2 linked regions of the Homo sapiens genome follow. The protein of the gene in region 1 purifies or fractionates together with the protein of each later gene. This does not show direct contact. Each region holds a gene or a part of one and is shown on either strand. Other genes may lie near its edges.

What was found.
Region 2: the proteins of PIP4K2C (region 1) and RIOK2 purify together in Homo sapiens (affinity purification with mass spectrometry; 2 studies listed by BioGRID and IntAct, with this or other methods). This does not show direct contact.

What each region holds. Positions count from the first base shown.
Region 1 is NC_000012.12:57,594,177-57,601,197, reverse strand, and holds part of PIP4K2C (phosphatidylinositol 5-phosphate 4-kinase type-2 gamma), read right to left. Parts: intron 6,073-7,021; coding exon 5,976-6,072; intron 5,311-5,975; coding exon 5,167-5,310; intron 3,241-5,166; exon of another isoform or gene 3,139-3,240; coding exon of another isoform or gene 3,136-3,138; intron 2,134-3,135; coding exon 1,987-2,133; intron 1,799-1,986; coding exon 1,760-1,798; intron 1,447-1,759; coding exon of another isoform or gene 1,396-1,446; exon of another isoform or gene 1,381-1,395; intron 875-1,380; coding exon 761-874; intron 388-760; coding exon 120-387; intron 1-119. UniProt on the Homo sapiens protein: Phosphatidylinositol 5-phosphate 4-kinase with low enzymatic activity. May be a GTP sensor, has higher GTP-dependent kinase activity than ATP-dependent kinase activity. PIP4Ks negatively regulate insulin signaling through a catalytic-independent mechanism.
Region 2 is NC_000005.10:97,180,243-97,188,262, reverse strand, and holds the start of RIOK2 (serine/threonine-protein kinase RIO2), read left to right. Parts: upstream 1-5,015; 5' UTR 5,016-5,071; coding exon 5,072-5,137; intron 5,138-8,020. UniProt on the Homo sapiens protein: Serine/threonine-protein kinase involved in the final steps of cytoplasmic maturation of the 40S ribosomal subunit. Involved in export of the 40S pre-ribosome particles (pre-40S) from the nucleus to the cytoplasm.

The DNA.
Region 1 (7,021 bases):
TTCTCCAGGAAGCAGTCAGTTTTGTTCTGAAAAGCTAATCAGGCTCTCCCCCAGCACTCTGGTCTCTGTCCTCCAGGAAAAATCCCCTCTCCACCCTTAAATTGTCCCGGTTCTCTCACCTTCAGCACTCCGGATGGCATAGACATCAATGAAGGACTCAAACTCTCCTGGGCCCAGGGGCCGATGGGAATGGATGTAGCCTCCGATACCCTCTGGGGAGGTGCCATAGGAGCCCACCAGAGCAGGAGGTCCAGTCAGGCTGCAGTCCCCATCCACCTCTGACTCATCCTCCCGCACGGGCGCTTCCTCCTCTGGTTCAGAGCCCCGAATGATGTCGTGGATGCCTAGCAGAAGGCTGTAGTCCATGATCTTCAGCTGCACTAGAAACTGAGACCCACTGACAAATCAGACACCTCTCTCTCACTCTTCACTGCTAGGTATCACCCCTGTACCTGTACCTTTGAATTTCTGGGGCCCTTCTGGGGAAAGGAAGTATAAAAATTGAGGTTGCAGGGCATACCACTGCCTTTAGTGCCTATATGTCCTAGTATCTAAGATCATCCTTTTAGCTTATTCCAGCCACCCCTTCCACGGGTCAGCTCCAGGGGTTTTTCATGTCTCATACTAAACCCCCATATAGGCAGAGGACCTGAAGAATAAAGGGAAGGGGAGGAGCTCCCTCATACCGTGAATGAAAGAGACAACTACCCTCTAGGGAGCAAAAAAAGGAAAGCCATTTCCCAGAGCACCCAATCATCACCTCCACATCTCTCTTCAGCTTCTCCAGAAATATTTTCTTCTCCTCTTCACCAATATATACTTTCTGGTTCTTGTTGAGAAAGTCCATATCCTTAAGGGTGGGCAATTCTTTAACCTAAGAATATGTAAAGGGACATCTTGGGAACATATCCCTTCCCCAAGGTCTCAGAACCCCACCTTCTGTCTAGGGCTCTATGCTAGCTCAGTTAGATCTCATCTAACTCCACACTGTGATGCTTCCCTGGTCTGTTCTCACCTCCAGTGACTTCCACAGACTCAGTCACTACAGCTGTATCCCAAATCACATCCCACTACTCTCTGCTTATGGTTTTTAGCCAAGACCCTCCAGGCTGACTTTTCTTTCTCCTCTTTTTTTTTTTTTTTTTTTTTGAGATAGGATCTCGATCACTCTGTTGCCCAGGCTGGAATGTAAGTGGTGTGATCTCAGCTCACTGTAGCCGCGACCTCCTGGACTCAAGTGATTCTCCCACCTCAGCCTCCCAAGTAGCTGGGACTACAGGCGCGTGCCACCACGCCCGGCTAATTTTTGTGTTTTTGGTAGAGATTACGTTGCTCAGGCTGGTCTGGAACTCCTGGGCTCAAGCAGTCCTGCCTTGGCCTTCTAAAGTGCTGGGATTACATGCATAAGCCACCATGCCCGGCCTGTGTCTTCTTAAGCAAAAGTAGCTGCTTGAATAAAATAACCCAGAATGGGAAGTGGAAGTTAAACACTTTGCTCTTCAAGTCTGGCAACCTCACCCATCCCCAAGCCTTCCATATGGAATAACCCATGCCAGTGTTAAAGCAGCTGCTCCCACTGCCCCTTCCAAACAATCCCCGGATCAACAGAAGTTTACCCCCTTCTTTTAAGTGGTTTAAGATAATAAATAGCTAGTAATCCCTATTCCTATATAGAGTGGCCTCTCCATCCTAAGAAGTTCCCCTCATCTGCCCTCCCTCATCCCTCATCCCTCACCCTAGCACATAAAATTACTATCACCTTTTCCTTATCGCTGGCTTCCCGGGACACTAGGGAACCCTGCAGAAAGACCCAAACACCAAGTCAGTAGAAGTGGCTAAAAGAACAGTCAGAACCCAGCCCCTAAGATGAGTACTCAAACCCAGCCTTCTTTCCCTTAAAAGGAATCATCCAAAGACCTCCCAGGGTCTTCCCCATTCTCAGGCTATCAGGAGCCTCCCTCTAAGTCCGAGCTACCCTCTTCTTACCTTGAGGTCATACTTCCTGTGCACAGGAAGACGGTGGCTAAACATATTGCGCATCACAAGCATGTAGCTGTCTTCGTTGTCCACACTGACTCGGTACATCCCCAGGAACTGGGGCAGAAGCGTGTTGCCATGGCACTTCACAATGTACTACAGTGAAAGAGGGGGAAGGAATGGGGAGAGGCTGAGTAGCAGATACACAAACAGCCCAGGGAAGTTCAAACACTGCCATTCCAGGGTAGAGCAGAGGACTTCAAGTAGAGAGATTACAAAGTCAAAAGTGGTGGAAGCTTCCCCAAAACACTCCAGGTTATCCATGCCGTTTCTGAATCCCCCTTTCCTCTGATTCCTTCCATTTGTACATCTCTTAATTTTTAAGTGTCATCTCTCAATTCACCTTTATCATTCTTTGAGATGAGGAAGGTTAAGTGTTATTATCCTTATTTTAGACCCTTTCTATATGCAAGTGGCACAGAACCAGGATTACAACTTATATCTTATCAATGAAATCATTTTATCTAGAGCAGTGTTTCTTCATAGGCTAGATTCCCATAATTTAAAATGTCTGCATTGGGTTGGGCTGTGCTGTGTCATTCTGTCACTGTAATATAAATACAGATTTTTATACCTAAAAAAAAAAAAAAGTCTGCATGATGGCCTACAATTTGGATTTTTTTTTTTTTTTTTTTTGGAGATGGAGTCTCACTCTGTTGCCCAGGCTGAAGTGCAGTGGCACAATCTAGGCTCACTGTAACCCCCGCCTCCTCCCAGGTTCAAGCAATTCTCCTGCCTCAGCCTCCCGAGTAGCTGGGAGTACAGGCGCACACCACCACGCTCAGCTAATTTTTTGTATTTTAGTAGAAGCGGGGTTTCACTGTGTTACCCAGGCTGGTCTCGAACTCCTGAACTCAGGCAATCTGCCCACCTCGGCCTCCCAAAGTGCTAGGATTACAAGCGTGAGCCACTGCACCCGGCCTACAATTTGGATTCTTTTTTAAAAATTCTCCTGTTAAGCCAGGCTCACACCTGTAATCCCAGCTACTTGGGAGGTTGAGGCAGGAGGATCGCTTGAGCCCAGGAGTTTGAGACCAGCCCGGGGAACACAGTGAGATCCTGTCTCTAAAAAACAAAAATTACTCCTTCAGTGCTTACCATCTCTCTTTCTGTGTTGCTGCCTCTTTCTCTTCACAGCCAACCTTCTCAGGAAAGTAATCAGCAAGAAATCCATTTCCTGTCTCTCATTCACACGTTGAATCACTGAAATCAGGTTTATACCTCATTTCTCCTCTGAAATCTCCCCCATATCCCTCAGTTGTCAAATCTAGTAAGTATTCTAGTCATTGTCATATTTCAGCTTTGTGGCACTTGATCCTATTGACCAGTCTCTCCTTAAAAGTCTCCTCATCCTCAGCTCTTATTATACCACCCTCCTGATTCCCCTCCTCTCTGTCGTCGAATCCCGTATGGAATGTAGCATGGCATAAATAATTAAAAGTGTCCATCTACTCTTAGTTTCCTTTATGGGCTCATTTCTTCACTTGTTCCTTTAGGTTCTGTCCTCAACCTTCTTTTCATTTCACTGCACACAACCTCCCTACAATAATCGTATCTATAGCCATGGTTTTAATGATCACTTACTCACATATAATTCTCAAACCTATACTCCCAGTCTAATCCTCTTTCCTGAATTCTGTACACATACCCCAACCACTTACTGGACATCCTCATCTGGATGAATTGCAGAAACCTCAAATTCAGTATGTCCAAATCAGAACTTTCTTCCTCCAAAAACCTGTTCCTCTGTTTCTAATTTCTGGTGAATAGGCACCCAGTTATCCCTAACCAGGAACTTGGAGGCCCCTGTGTCTTAACTCTCAGTTCTCCCATAGGTCTTCCTTTCTATCCCCACCACCATCGCTCCCCCAGGCCTTCATTGTTTCTACCCTGGACTATTAAAATTACCTCCTAACTGGTATCCACCCTTCCAGTGTTCCCTCCCACCAATCCATTCTCTAAAACGCTGTCACATTTTCTAAATATTTCTAAATAACAAATATATCACGCCCCTTGCAAAACCACCTTCAGGATAAAGTCCAAACTTCTTTGTGGGGCTTATAAGCCTCTTTACAATCTGGCTCCTGCCTATTTCCACAGTACTACATCCCATCCAAATGGAATTTCTTGCTGTTTTCTAACACCAAGTTCTCTCATGGCTCTGTGCCTTACAAGTGCTGTTTTCCTTTGCCTAGAATGCTCTTCCACCCTGTCCAATGGTTAACCTCTACTAGTCCTTCAAGGATCAACTCTTACAGTATCTCCTCTAAAAAACTCTCTTTAGCCTCCCAGGTGCATTTCCTTCCCCAGGTGAGTTCGGATGCTCTTCACTAGCTTCAGAATATTCTGTACAGACTTCTACTATTGTATATATCTTGCGGTGTGCTAATACTGGGTCACTGGTCACTGCCATCAGACCAAGGGATCTGTAAGGGCCACAGATGTTTCATTTACCTCCTACTCTACTGCCTAACATAGGGCCTAATAAGAGGTATTCAATATTTGTTGCATAAACCAAAGACTCCTTTTGGACTCTGATGTATTCCTTGCTCACTGATTTTGGTGAAATTTTTCTTCAGTAGAGATGTTCAAGAAGAGTGTTTTTACTGCCAAAACATTCCATAAACTCCACATTCCAAGTAAATCTTTTTTTTTTTAATCTTTTTTTTTTTTTTTAGGCGGAGTTTTGCTCTTGTTGCCCAGGCTGAAGTGCAAATGCACGATCTCGGCTCACTACAACCTCCGCTTCCCGGGTTCAAGTGATTCTCCTGCGTTAGCCTCCTGAGCAGCTGGGATTACAGGCATGAGCCATCATGCCCAGCTAATTTTGTACTTTTAGTAGAGACGGGGTTTCTCCATGTTGGTCAGACTGGTCTCGAACTCCCGACCTCAGGTGATCCTCCCGCCTCAGCCTCCCAAAGTGCTGGGACTACAGGTGTGAGCCACTGCCCCCAGCCTGTAAATCTTATCAGACAGAATAGCTTCCCTCATCCCATTTAGGGCTGGATATGATTATGGATTCTCTCTTCCAATGAGTTTTCTCCCCAGTTGGCATCTATTACTGACAATAGCTGAGCTATATGTGAGTAGGGAGGAGAGGGAAAGAATGGGGCTAGAGAGAGGCCTGACCTGGTGATAGTTGGAGAGGTTGCTATGCATGTCAGCAATGTCCTCACTGGATACTTCTTTGATGACCAGAGTCCGATCGTAGGAGATAAGGAAGCGACCATCACTGCCTTCACTTTCGCTGGGGGGGTTTCGGGTAAGGGACACCTGGGGACACAGAATAGGCCAGAGCTCTTTTCCTCCCTCTTTATATGCAGAAACAAGTCATAGGAAAATGGTCAGCTGAAAGTGGATGAATCCCTGGGGTAGGAGATTCAGCACAGTTCCTCATCAGGTGTCCATATGTGGACTGAAGGAAACTGAATGCAAAATTCTTTTTTTTTTTTTTTTTTGACAAGGAGTCTCGCTCTGTCACCCAGGCTGGAGTGTAGTGGTACGATCTCAGCTCATTGCAACCTTCGCCTCCCAAGTTCAGGTGATTCTCCTGCCTCAGCCTCCCAAGTAGCGGGGACTAGACGTGCGCCACCACACCTGGCTAATTTTCATATCTTTAGTAGAGACAGGGTTTTGCCATGTTGGCCAGGATGGTCTCGAACTCCTGACCTCAGGTGATCTGCCCGCCTCGGCCTCCCAAAGTGTTGGGATTACAGGCGTGAGCCACAGCGCCTGGCCAAAATTCTTAATGTATCTACATCTTTTCCCCCAAGGACAAGGTTTATAATTTTCATTAAATTTTTGAAAATGCTGCAATCACAAAAAGGTAAAGAATTATATTTGCCAAGACTCTCATTTCTCCAAATATGGCTGTCCCAAATAGTACTCCTCAGTTGCTGGGGAGAAAGGGCTACCCTCACCCCTTAATGGACTCTCACCAAGTAATCTTGGTCATCAATGCCAAATCGATCACGGAGGTTCCTGAAGACCTGGGGACAATACTCCTTGAACTTGAAATGACTGGGCAGATTTTCCCTGAAATTCAGGTTTTCAAAGTAAGAAAACAAACAATATTACATTTACATACACTTGGTAGTTTATAAAGTACCTTCAGACATATTACCTCATTTGATTCTCATAAAACCCTGTGAGGTCCTTTTTTTTTAATTTTTATTTGTTATTATTATTTTTTGAGACAGAGTCTCACTCTGTTGCCAGGTTGGACTGCAGTGGTGCAATCTCGGCTCACCACAACCTCCATCCCCCGGGTTCAAGCAATTCTCCTGCCTCAGCCTCCCAAGTAGCTGGGACTACAGGCATGCGCCACCATGCCTGGCTAATTTTTTGTATTTTTAGTAGAGATAGGGTTTTGCCATGTTTGCAGGCTGGTCTCGAACTCCTGACCTCAAGTGATCCACCCGCCTTGGCCTCCCAAACTGCTGGGATTACAGGCATGAGCCACCACGCCTGGCCCTTGTGAGGTCCTATAAAAACATATTATTTCCATTTTATAGAAGAGGAGACTGTCTCAGAGTGATTCAGTGACCTGCCTAAGTAACATGGTTGGTAAGTGGTATAGTAGAGCCAGGATCTACTACCCATCCAAACAGCAGCATTTCCCAAATCTCAAGCAAGTCAGAAGCATTCTAAAGTCAGCAACAGACACCACTGTTTTGAATGGCATCTTCTTTTCCTAGGAGGGCTTAGTAGAGAATTCAAGTTTTTCTTTCAAGGAGTCCCTGTCAGAAGCTAATGGTTCTCATGGCATCTCCAAGGTCACAAGCAGAAAAAGAGAGAAAGAGCAGGTAATGGTATCTGTACATATTTACTCTATGGAATTGCCAGGCTAGAGGAGAGATAACACTGATTCATATAAGGATATAGGGAACACCAGAAATTATTCTCATGGTTTCCTTGCACAAAACTAATTTCTGCATTTGGGAAGGATGTTAAATTTTCAACTCACTGAAACTTTTAAAATTAT
Region 2 (8,020 bases), on another chromosome or scaffold:
AATATTCTTGGTCCTTAAGGATACACAGAAGAGAGTGATTCTCAACCACAAAGAAATGAAGGTGACGGGGTCTGTGATGGGGACTTAAATGAACAAGAGGTTTAGAAACACTAATTCAAGTCTATCCCCTTCATAATACAAATAAAGAACCTATGACCCATTAGACCTATAAACTTCTTGAGTAAAGGAACTGAGTTTTGTCTACCAAAATGCATTGTAAACATTCAAAATAAAAACTTGTTTGAATGAGTGAAATTAAAGGCATACCCAAGATCAAAAACTAGTTAGTGTCAGAGTTAAGCCAATGATAATATCTCTCAGTTGGAGGTCTTATTTTGCCTATCCCACCTTTATGGAAGGGTCCCATTATCACTATGCTGAAGGCCCAGAAAAACACTGGTGAAGGTGGACTTTCACACGAAGCCGACTCTGTACTGCAGAGTGGCATGTGGGAATATTAATACAGAGTGCTCTTATGATCAACTCTTTAAGAAGAGCAGGGAAAGAAGTAGGATTAGGCAAAGGAAAAAGTTTAACTGTGGTGTAGTACCAAAGGAGGCCTCGAGGCTTTTGACTCGAAAGCAGGGGTCCCCAACCCCCAGGCCACGGACCAGTTCCTTTACTCACATTTCTTGTGCACACCCATATATCCTTTCTCATACCCCTCTACCTCAGACATCCTTGTTCCCAATCTACTAATTCTTCTTCCAAGTCCCTTTCCAACCAGCCAAGCCATTCACCCTTCCCCATGAGTCCATGTATATTTTAACCTGGGGCTATTTCTCTTACTACACAAAGTGAATGATGAAGTGCACCTTCCAAAGATCTGCCCATCAGGAGGATATTCCCTGATCACTTCTCTTTCAAGGACACACAAATAGAGCTGTAGTTCAACTACAAAATCAAACTGACCCATCCGTGAATCTAATGTGGGCTTTTTTTGCTTCACCAACTGATCAAAGGTATCACCCATGGAGATATAAGTTGAGGGAAAGGCACTTGGGCAATGGTAGTGGATGACATGAAAGAGTCCAGTCCACCTGCTCATGCAGCTTGCACCCTCTGGTCCTGCTTGTGTTCACTCCTGCACGTACCACTTTCATCTTAGGATAGATCATTACTGAACAACTGTGACCCCGATGTCACCTGTGTGATATCTCAGCGCCAAGCAACACATCTCTCCCAGGGCTCTGCAGCACGCCAGGAGCTATTTTTCAAAAGGTATATAAATCTCTGCTGTGTATTCTGAACATGCTTCTGAATTCAACAAGTTTGTGTTGTGAGTCTCCCATTGAAACTTGCCATAAACTCCACACATCCCTATCTTCCATTCTGTGTCTTTTTCCACCACTGATATCCCTTATATGCAAATGTATGGCGCTACCACCCATATGCAGTAAAATCTATCATAATTTTTTCTGAGTTTTAGCTAGTATAATATCTTAAATGTAAATATACAAAATTTCTTTTTCTTGAATCTATGCTTTAAATTCAGTCTCCACATTCAACTTTTTCTGTAATTAACCTAACCTATGGGCAAGCAGGAGAGGTTAAAAAGTGGCCAGAATCATTAAAGACAACAGGCTACAGAAGATTAGAGGGAGGAGCACTTACTTCCCTTTGAGAGTGTGAGAGGTTGAATGATGACCCATCCAAAAATATCCACATACTAATTTCTAGAACCTAAGAATTTATCCTATATGGAAAAAAATATTTTACAGATGTTATTAAGGGTCTGAGTGGATCCTAAGTGCAATTACATGTATTTGTATAAGACAGAGACAGAAGGAAACACACACACTCACGAGTAGAGAAGGCAATAACGTAAGCATGGAGACAGAGACTGGAGTGATGTGCCACAAGCCAAAAGAATGCCAGCAGTCACCAAATCCCAGTAGGAGCTGCAAAAGGCAAGGAACAAATTCTCCACTAGAGCCCCTCTTGGGGGAACATGGTCCTGTCAACACGTTGATTTTGACCCAGTAAAAATAATCTCTTATTTCCAGCGTCCTGAACTGTAAGAGAATAAAGTTCTATTGTTTTAAGTCGTCAAAGTTTGCGGTAATATGTTAACAGCAGCAAGAGAAAATTAATATAGAGATAAATAGGAATAATAAAGAAAAACCTTATGTGGTGAATAGAATTTTAATGGTAGATAAGATTTACATATATTGTGATTGAAAAAGAAGAAAAACAGTAGGGAAGAGGTAATATTACAGGTGGAGGGAAAAGTATTACAGGTGAAGGGAAAACTTAGTAAAAAAGAAATTTAAGGGAGTTATACAGGGAAAACAAAAGTAGTTCAATTAGACAAGAGTACAAACTGCTTGAAGATGGTGATACAGATTGTTGACAATCCTGAATGCCAGTCTAAACGTGCACTTTGATCTGTAGACAGTTAAGGTTCTCTGCAACTTGTAAGGACAGGGTCAGGGCAGGGGAGGTAAGGGAGGAGGAAACACCAACATGATACACCTTTTGCACATCTGTGTCACACTACTCTCTATTTTTCTACTCTTCACCCTCCAACACAGGTATGAGGGTTGAGATTGATTCCCCAGGACCTAGTAAAAAAGTATGGCATATATGTTTGATGAATAGTGAATGCATTAACGAATAATACTGTACATGTTTTGTTTTACTCATCACTAAGCATGGTATGAGGGAGTAGAACAGAATACCAAACTGCACTTCAATCACTTACTTTTACTCTTCAAAGTTCTGATTATTAAAATGATTTTATTTTAAAAGTAATATTCCAAATATAAGAGATTTGGACTTAATGTGATTAACCGTAAGGCATACTTCAGAACACCAATAGCAATTCTAGTCAATTCCACTCAGTTAATGGTGGCTGTCTGAGGCAATGTTGAGAAATAATGTAAGAATTACACCATAATAGATTAGGAACATTTGCTAAAGTGCTGGATTCGGAGTAGAAACATAAATGGCTTGTTTCCCATTCCATTCTTGCTCTAGAAGTTAGTTATTTGCATACAAATGGCCAACAGGTACATGAAAAATTGCTCAACATCACTAAGTATATAAGAAATGAAAATCAAAGCCATAATGAGATATTATCTTACCCCAGTCCAAATGGCTACTGTTAAAAAGACAAAAAATAATGGATGTTGGTGAAGATGCGGAGAAAAGAGAACTCTTATACACTGTTGATGAGAATGTAAATTAGTACAGCCACTGTGGAAAAGTATATGGAGATTTCTCAAAAAATTAAAAATAGAATTATTCAATCCAGCAATCCCACTATTGGGTATCTACCCAGAGGAAAGAAATCAGTATATCAAAGGGATACCTACACTTGCATGTTTATCGCAGCACTATTCACAATAGCAAAGCTATGGAATCAACCTAAGTGTCCATCAACAGATGAATGGATAAAGAAAATGTGGTATATATACACAATGGAGTACTATTCAGACATAAAAAATGAAATCTTGCCATTTGCAGTAACGTGGATGGAGCTGGAGGTCATTATCTTAAGGGAAATAAGCCAGGAACAAAAAGACAAATATCACACGCTCTTACTTATATGTGGAAGCTAAAAAATTTGATCACATTAAGGTAGAGAGTGGAAAGACAGATAACAGACTGGGAAAGATGAGGGGAGTGGGAACAGGATGAAGAGAGTAGGTTAAAGGTTACAAACATGGAGTCAGATAGAAGGAATATATTCACTGCTTGATAGTAGAGTAGGGTAACTATAGTTACACAAAAATATATTGTATTTGGATGACAGACACCCTAAATACTTGTAACAAAATTTCTCACGTACCCCATAAATTTGTACAAATAAAGTTAGTCACTTGGTTTTTTTAAAAACTTTTCGCCCAGGCGCGGTGGCTTATGCCTGTAATCCCAGCACTTTGGGAGACTGAGGGGGGCGGATCACCTGAGGCCAGGAGTTTGAAACCAGTCTGGTCAACAGGGCGAAACCCCATCTCTACTAAAAATAAAAATATTAGCAGGGCGTGGTGGTGTGAGCCTATAATCCCAGCTACTTAGGAGGCTGAGGGAGAAGAATCCCTTGAACCTAGAGGGCAGAGGTTGCAGTGAGCCAAGATCGCGCCCCTGTACTTCAGTCTGGGTGACAGAGCCGGGCTCTGTCTCAAAAATAAAAAAAAAATTCATTTCTATGCCTTCTTATGTAAGTACAGAAAGAAAAATTCCGTTTAAATGGAGATGTTCATTGGTTGAAGATGGTTAATCAAAGACATGCTGCATTCAAGTAAAAAGCAGACAAAGGCTTGAATATCGAGGAGTTGCAGAGCCAGTATGGGTAACTATTCTAAAATCCTTAAATCGCTCCTGGGCCCTCGAAGTCCTACCCGCGTAGGTCAGCCCGAACTATCAAAATCCCCACTTCCTCTGGAGGTAAGGACGTCCGCCGCGCTCTCCACGTGTCACCTTAAACTCCCACCCCAACCAGCGCAGGCGCACTTCGAAGCCTCCTAGACCAACCTAAGAGAAGTACTGAGCAAGCGCATGAGTTCCATTAACCACGCCCTCCGGAGCTGCCGGAGCAGGCGCAATTAGGAGTAGAGGGCGTGCTTGTGTGATTACAGTCCACTTTACCTTTAACAGATTTGGTTGTCTGGACTCTAGCTCAGGTTCTTTTACCCCTGTCTTGTTGGAAGTCACTTTGCCTAGAGTAGAAGTTGTTTGCGGGAAAAATTTGCTCCTCCCATTAAGTAACCACTTTGCTCTCTGAGGCGGAACGTGTCATTGAGGCAGCAAGTCCTGACAGATATGGAAAAAAAAAGGCACATTGTAGAGAATATCTACACTCCGCCAACTCAGTCACAACGCAAAAATTACACAAAAATAAAACGTTCACTTGTTACATACTATGTGTTTCATAAGACATACAAGTAGTTTTATTTTCCTATATCAATGAGAACAGCACTTCTAACTATTAACAAGGACCTATACTAAGACGCAGCGCGTGCGCGAGCCATCTGGCGCTGTAAAGCGCTTAGAGGCTGGAATAACGACCTGCCTTACGCTTTGCGGCTGTCGTCGGAGAGGCATCTGGGTTCGGACTGGGGCCGCCATGGGGAAAGTGAATGTGGCCAAGTTGCGTTACATGAGCCGAGATGACTTCAGGGTCTTGACCGCGGTAAGAAACCCGCCGTTCCTGTTCTCCCTTCCCCTTAACACTGTGTGACCTCTTCCTGTTCCTGCAAGTTTTCTGGGATCTGAGCAGGCACACTCTGGGACCCGGGACGTGGCAGAAGCTGGGAATGGAGAAGAGAGCATTCAGAAAGTCGGATTTTTAAAAAGGTTTTGTTTGGGAGCTTACCTTCCCCCAGATAGAGCAAAGGTCCCGTCTTCTAATAATTGTTTTCTTTTCTGCTGCTATTCGCTTTGCGCTGAAGAGAAACGCTTGCATCTCTGTGGCCTGGAAACTTCTCTGATCCTGAGCTTCCGACCAGCTGTGAAAGGTTTAAGCCCCCCCCCCCCCCCGAGATTTGATAATATTGACTTCCCTACTAACAGACTCAGTCGCATAGCAGTCTTTCTGATTCATTCAGTCAACACATATTTGTCGGTTTTTTAGTAGCAACATTAGGAGGTTCACTTGTTCAAACAGACAAGTGGAGAGAGAGACACAGATCATCAAGTAAACGAAAAATAGGATAATGGATAAATGCTATGAAAATGATAAAGGATAATGGCATAGAAAGTATATGTATCTGGTGGAGAGGAGGGGCACAAGTTATTGGCCTTTGGTAGACAATCAATAAATATTCACTAAATGAAAGAATGAATGGGGGAATAATAGGAGCTGTGTGAGAAAGAGACAGCCCAGTGAAGTCCTTGGAAAGAGTTGGAGGCAGAGGAAACAGCAGTAGTAAGTGCAAAGGCCTTGAGACAGAAAAGTCTTTGAAGAGAGGAAAGGCCAATGTAATGTGGCTGGAGCAAAGTGAGATGCACACTAATGGTTGGAGATGTAGCGGAAAAGGTGAGAAATTATGTACTACAGAGCCTTGGAGGTTTGGTAAAGAATGTGGGGGTAACCACTAAATGTTTTTAATCAGGGGAGTAACAAAATCTGATTTTATGGCCTCAGTCTTATGGCACAGAAATTAATATATAGATCAAGACATTTGTACATTTATTTAGGAGCCGTTATCTTTTGGTAAGGAGTGAACCCCATGATAAGGACTACCTATATTGTGTAATTATGTAATAGGATATGCGATGTGAGTCACACTGGTTCTTGCATTATGTTAAGGCTTCAAGTTTTGGATTTTTAAAATTAATCTTAAATAGCGCTTAAGTATTAAACTATCAAATGCAAAATCAGTGTGAAATTTGGAAGACAATGTTTACTTTGCCTCTCATGTAGATTCTTCTAATCAGCTGGACTTTCTCTATGAAAACCTACTATCACTTCGGAAAGATACCTTCCTTTCCTGCTTTCTCAGCACACTCATTCCTTAGTGTCTCTGACAGAAGTAGGGGTCAAAAGTAAGAGTGTTAGAGGACGGGGGAGGCAGAGACAAAGCATGGAAAATAAGTTAAATTTAAAAGTTAAGGTTTTGGTGAGACATCAAAATGATGCCAGATTTATCTTCCAAAACATTGGCGCTGCAATATTTAAATTATTTGTAAAGTTCACCAAGAAATGACTTAGTCATTAAATATGACATTCCGGTCTCAGTTGAATCTCACCAGTGTTGGTACCCTTTCTTGGGCCTCTCTTCCCTTTTACTTCTTTGGCTCCTCCTATATCAATAATCATTGTTTGACTAGCTGCCCTTAGCTTTCAATATGAACTTGCCCCAGAATTCTGCTCCCAAACATTCCTTTTCTTCCATTATCTCCTGCTCAGTGATAGCATCCACTTCACATCTTCAACTCTCACTTCTATAAAATAATTGACAATTTTTCCTTCTAATTATAACTTCATTCCTAAATATAGGCCCCTTTCCTATTTAATTTTCTCTCTTTCTTTTTTTTTTTTTTTTGAGACGGAGTCTTATTCTGTTGCCAGGCTGGAGTGCAGTGGCACAATCTCAGCTCACTGCAACCTTCACCTTCTGGGTTCAAGCGATTCTCCTGCCTCAGCCTCCCAAGTAGCTGGGACTATAGGCGCACACCACCACGCCCAGCTAATTTTTGTATTTTTAGTAGAGATGGGGTTTCACCATGTTGGCCAGAATGGTCTCGATCTCTTGACCTCGTGATCCACCCACCTTGGCCTCCCAAAGTGCTGGGATTACAGGTGTGAGCCACTGCACCTGGCCTCCAGTTTTCCTTTAAACATTTTTATTTGACTCTCAGTGCTCAAACCAAATTCAATTTTTTTCTACCCCCTTTCTCTTTTCCCAAGCTCTATAAAAAAAAAAAATAATAAAATCTTAAAACTTGCTTTTCCTCATCACTTCCAATTGTGGCTTTCCGTTCCCTTTACCCTTCCACATCTAATTGCCAAGCTCTCCCATAATACTTCCTAAAGATTTTTATTCCTTCCTTCCAGTACCACTACCACTTACCCTGTTCTGGTGGCTCTTTCCTCTGAGCTGGACTTCTGTCTTAGTTCTCCGGAGTACCCCCTCAGATTTTGCCATCTCTAAGCCAATTTGCATATTCCTGGTACATTAATGTCCTTAAAATAACCCTGTTCGTGTGTCTCCCACGCCTAAACATCTTCAAGAGCTTCCTGCTCTCATCAGGATAAAATATAAAAGTATTTGGTCTACATTTTAATGCCTTCTCTATCCTAGAAGTATCTTCCAGCCGCGTTTGCATGAATTCTATATGCTATCCCATCTGAGCTGCTACTGTACTCAGCTATTCTCTGTGGTCAGTACTTTCTTGCATATGTGCCATTTTCAAATCTTTTTCTTTCACTAATATCCCCTTGTCTGTTTTCTCTGTATGCCCACATCTTTTAAAAGTCAGTCTCTAGTTTTGCATCTTCCTTGGAACTGATCCCTCAGCTAGAAGTATTCTTATTCTGCCCTGAGCTACCTTTTTAAGCACTTATCACTTC